2 separate regions of the Homo sapiens genome follow, and region 2 is linked to region 1. The links come from fine-mapping of genetic effects on gene expression. Tissue or cell type: whole blood. Region 1 holds a variant in brackets; the other region holds the start of a gene. All regions are shown on one strand. Distances are from middle to middle.

Region 1 (2,754 bases):
CAAAAAATAATAATAATAATAAATATGATCAGCTGGGTGTGGGGGCATATGCCTGTAGTCTGAGATATTGGGAGGCTGAAGCAAGAGATTCACTTCAGCCCAGGAGTTCGAGGCCAGCCTGGGCAACATAGTGAGACCCTGTCTCTAAGACAAAAAAAAAAAAAGAGAGAAGGAGGAAGAAAGAGCTTTCTGGGCTAAGACAAATGTTAGTCATGTGTATCTGTGATGTGGTGTGATGACAGGTCTACTTGTTCTGGATGTCTTTTTTTTGGTGAGTATTGTTTGGGGGAGAAAGAAGTATTGGGTGGCGTGAGGATTCAATGTAGATGGACCAATGTTTAATGGGACTGAGGACACAGAGAGGACACAGAGCGGACACAGAGATGTGGGAGACAGGGTCCCTCAAGGTGCTCCTTGACACACAGACACAGCTTGGGGGACTTAGTTGCTGCCAAGCCAACTCTTGGCGTGACATGAGGTGGCAGGAGTGGGGACGGACGGCCACTGAGGACCCACCACCCCAGGACAGCCGGGCGCCTCTGGCAGGCAGGTCCACGGTTACTGATTGTCATGGTCAAGCTCAGCTGGGCACTGGGTCCAGAAGGAGATGTGACTGGCCCATTTTGTGTCTTTTATCTGAGCCTGCACCTTTCCTAACTCAGATTTTTTAAATACTTTTTTCTTTATACTCACTTTGTTTTTCTCTGTACTAATACACTAACTCGGATTTTTGGCTTTTATTGGGCCGAGGTCCCACCAACCTGGATGCTCAGCCTTGTTTGGTAAAGCAAGAAAAGTATCTGAGAAATGTTCCCTAAAGGCTGATTTCACCCCAAACAGTCACTCAGTGATGCGCCTCACTTACCAAGGACACACCCCCAAAAGGCATCTCCTGGCCTCCGGGTCTCACTCTGTTATCGCAGGGTGTGGTGGAGCAGGTGTGGTTGGGTGGCCACCAAGATGGATTTCAGTCTCTTTCCAGGCCCAGGGAACAAGCCGAATTCGAGAGACTTGGCTTTTAGCCTCCTGTTAGAGCCAAGAAAGACTTCAAAGACTCAACGGCTTCTAAGGCTTTTTACATCAGCAAAGTCCTGCAAAGCCTGCAAACGAAGGCTGCTTTGAGGCCTTTCATTCTAAGGACAGAGAAGGTAAATTCCATGGCCACTTTCTCCAGAGCAGCAACTGGGCTCCTTCTTTTTACTTCCATGGGGAGGACAAGAGATTCATTTGCTTTCTGTTGCTGAGAATGCTATCAAAACAAATTTTACTTTTAGCTGCAACCTTTCAAAAGCGTCTTAAGCATAAAGCACGAAAAAATCCCCAAGCTTATGTAGGCATTCTAGTTTTTTCGTGGTTGGTGTTTTTTTTTAACTGTGCCAGTTTCAGCTGAAACATGGTTCTATTGTTTCCATTTCCCACTGTACATACAGCACTGAATTCTTGGGGAGCAAAAGTACGAGGGCAGATTGAGAAACCCCAGTTCATGAGAAGTTTGTTGTTGTGGTGGTTGTTGTTTTAGCAAAGAGAGGAAATCGGTAAATAGCTCTGATGTTGA[G/A]ACAGCAGGAGGTCAGGACATTGAGCAACGTGCAGGTGGGGTTGTGGACTCAGGGCTGAGCGGCAGGGGGCGCTCCTCCCAGTGCAAGCCTTCAGAAACACCAGCCTTGAGTTGGACGGTTCTGGCTCATTGTGTGGAGTCCTAAGTGGTCACACTCCACACTCCTAAGTGGTCTGGTCACACAGTTGTTTTAAAGAAGGGTAATGGCTCATTAGGTAGATTTGGGTAGGATGCAGCTTGAAGTGGGGCGTAAAATCCTTTCATTGTCCAATGGGGAGGTCACAGTGCAGCAGCTACTCCTTGTACTTGGAATGAGGGAAACAGCGTAATCTAGACTTGAACACGGGCTCAGGAACCAGGAGCGCCAGCCACAGATCTCACTCACTCTCACTGTTGTTTGCAACTTTGGGCAAGTCAAGTAACTTCTCTGCTGGATCACTGCTTCTCCAACTGTGTGAGCATTTGTAGCTTTTTCCCAAATAAGTACTCTACTTCCTGGCTTTCCAAAGTGGAGCCGGACAGTCGCTTCTGCATCATTGGGAGTTTGTTGGCAATGCAGAATGTCAGCCTCGATTCCAGACCTACTACATGGAATCTGCATTTTAACCAGAGGCCCAGTGCTGAGCACACTGAGGTCTGAGAAGGACTGCTCTGTTCTCCCAGGTCACTGCAATGGTATCAGGTTCTTCTGTTCCTCTCTCTCAGAGGATACTTGAAATGATGCCTGAAAAAAAAGACAATCTAGGCCAGGCATGGTGCCTCATGCTTGTAATCCTAGCCCTTTGGGAGGCCAAGGCGGGAGCATCACTTCAACCCAGGAGTTTGGGACAAGCCTGGATAACATAGTAAGACCCCATCTCTACAAAAGAATAAAAAATTAGCTGGGTGTGGTGGTGCACACCTGTAGTCCCAGCTACTTGGGAAGCTGAAGTGGGAGAAGTGGGGAGGATTGCTTGAGCCTGAGAGGTCGAGGCTGCAGTGAGCCATGATCGTACCACTGCACTCCAGCCTGGATGACACAGCGAGACTCTCAAAAAAAAAAAAAAAAAAAAGATCATCTATATATATGGTCAGGACTCAGGTAAGATCCTTAAGATGTCTTTGTATTCATCTGTAATAAGTCATTTTAAGAACTCCATGTTCTCTGAGGCATTTTCTGAAAGTCATTTGTGCACCCATCTATTGCCAATGATTTCTCC
Region 2 (2,627 bases), 350 kb before region 1:
TAGTGATGTTGAGCATATTTGCATATACCTGTTGGCCATTGTTGAACATTCAAAGCAACAATTTAAAAGCATATCCTTACGTCCTTCATCAATTTACAACAAATATTTACTGAGCACTTATACTGTGCCAGGACTATGCATGGGAACCCCTAGCCCAGTGTAGAATCCAGACAAGTAACCAGGCTTTTGCAACCTAGTGTTGCAAGGGCCCAGAAATCAGCAACCACAGAAGGGGATAGAGGCAGTGGAAGCACCGAAGCCAGTCTTGAAACATCTGGGCCAGCTTCCTATAGGAGGGGATTCTAAGCTGAGAGACACAGTGTGCGGAGCTAGGAATCCCCATGTGTGTAAGATATGGTTTCTGCCTGGGTGGGTGGGGACAGACAAGTAGATGACACGATGCTATTTGACACAGGAATGCAGCTAAGCCATGCATATATATATTATATCTTTCTTTAGTCAGGAAAGAAGATTCTCCTTTGAGCAAATTTACTCCTTTTAAGAAGGCCGAGCTATTTGGAAAGATGCCCACCAGGATGGCAAAGTGGTGCTTGAGCCCTCCCTGCAGCACACGCCCAGGACTTTGAAGCAGGGACAGGGTCCTCCTGGCTACTGAAAGGAATCGAGTTAACGCGCCCTAGTGGCAGGTGGCGAATGGCCGGAGATCCGGCCTCCCAGTGGTGTCCACCGCCACGGGCCTCCGCTCGACAGGCTTATTTCCCTCCATGCTGGAGCAAACCCCGGCTGAAAGAGGGCCGCACTAATTGGTTTGCGTACCCGAAGTGGGAATAGAGAGGGAGGAAAACCATGTTTCAGGTGTTACGGGGGGAAAAAAGTGAAATGCGAACCGCAGGGGAGAGAGCGACCGTCAGGCAGACACCTTGTGAACCGCGGTGGAGAGCACACCTAGGTGGGGAGGTCACCGGCCCAACCCACCACCCTCCGGGAGAATGCGGGCAGGGACAGCAGCAGGGGGCAGCATCCACGTCTCTACGCTTGCAAGGGTTCCCCAAGTCCCTGGCCACTGCTCCCCACTTCCTGCAGCCTCGGTGTCCGCCGGGGGCGTGTGTGAGGGGCGGGGCCGCATGGGGAGGAGGGATTTAAAAAAAAAAAAAAAAAGCGAGGTAATTAGCATTCTCCGATTCCACTGGCTCTCCGCCGCCCCTGCTTTGCATACGCCCGTCCCACTGGCTGCCCGGGGTTTGCTGGGGTTCGGCAAGGTTTGCAGCCGCCACGGCCGCTGCTGCGCTCCGGTGCAGGGCAGGCTGGCGCCGAGCGAACCAGGGCCGGGAACTGGGAGCCGGGAGCCGGGAGCCAGCTGCCCGCGGAGCTGCGGCGGCGGCGGCATCTGGGGTGGTCTCAGTCCCACGAACACCGTGGCCGGCGCCCGGTGGCTACTGCGCCCAGCGGGGCTCAGGGAAGAGCGGTCTAGACACTTTTTATTTTGGAAGAAAGGGGCAAGCCCCGGCGGGAGCTTCCTTCCCGGCCTGGCTCGCTCCCCATTGCGCCCAGCTCCGGCCCGGACTCTGGAAGATGACTCCAGGGTCTGCTCTGTATATTCCAGCGGCGGCAGTTCCGGGAGGCAGCCGAAAGTACTAACAGTTGGTAGCAGCGGCTAGTGGAAAAGTGAGCCAAGGCGGCGCGGACTCGGCTCTCCCCGCGCCCCGCGGCACTCGCTGCTCCTCGCCGCTCCTTCCCTTTGGCTCCCAGGCGGCTGCAGCATGAAGTGGCGCAGCGATGGCCAGGAGAGGTAAGAAGCCCGTGGTGAGAACGCTGGAGGATCTGACGCTGGACTCGGGTTATGGTGGCGCGGCGGACTCGGTGCGCTCCTCCAACTTGTCTTTGTGCTGTTCCGACTCGCACCCGGCGTCCCCGTATGGCGGGAGCTGCTGGCCGCCTCTAGCTGACTCCATGCACAGCCGGCACAACAGCTTTGACACTGTCAACACTGCCCTGGTGGAAGACTCCGAGGGGCTGGACTGCGCCGGCCAGCACTGCTCGCGGCTGCTGCCGGACCTAGACGAGGTCCCCTGGACTCTCCAGGAGCTGGAGGCGCTGCTGCTGCGTTCGCGGGATCCCCGGGCAGGCCCGGCGGTCCCCGGCGGCCTGCCCAAGGACGCGCTGGCCAAGCTGTCGACGCTGGTGAGCCGGGCGCTGGTGCGCATAGCCAAAGAGGCGCAGCGCCTGAGCCTGCGCTTCGCCAAGTGCACCAAGTACGAGATCCAGAGCGCCATGGAGATCGTGCTGTCCTGGGGCCTGGCCGCGCACTGTACGGCGGCTGCGCTGGCCGCACTGTCCCTCTACAACATGAGCAGCGCCGGCGGCGACCGCCTGGGCCGCGGCAAGTCGGCCCGCTGCGGCCTCACCTTCTCCGTGGGCCGCGTGTATCGCTGGATGGTGGACAGCCGCGTGGCGCTGCGCATCCACGAGCACGCCGCCATCTACCTGACAGCCTGCATGGAGAGCCTCTTCCGGGACATCTACTCGCGGGTCGTGGCCTCCGGGGTGCCCCGGAGCTGCAGTGGCCCTGGGTCAGGCTCGGGCTCCGGCCCAGGCCCGAGCTCGGGCCCTGGTGCGGCCCCCGCGGCGGATAAAGAGCGGGAGGCGCCCGGGGGAGGAGCGGCGAG

Evidence for each region. PIP is the estimated chance that this variant, and not a neighbour inherited with it, causes the effect.
Region 2: ABTB3 starts here. The variant in region 1 is fine-mapped to the expression of ABTB3 in whole blood (TOPMed, PIP above 0.99).

The regions. Positions count from the first base shown.
Region 1 is chr12:107,669,620-107,672,373 of GRCh38, forward strand. No RefSeq gene overlaps it. Among named protein-coding and RNA genes, the nearest start is that of PWP1, 15 kb to the right of the region's middle. The variant G/A (reference allele first, on the strand shown) is at 1,556.
Region 2 is chr12:107,317,204-107,319,830 of GRCh38, forward strand. ABTB3 (ankyrin repeat and BTB domain containing 3) reads left to right here and starts at 1,231. Exons shown (of 17, transcript NM_001018072.2): 1 at 1,231-2,627. The coding sequence starts at 1,738. RefSeq lists an enhancer at 1,733-2,452.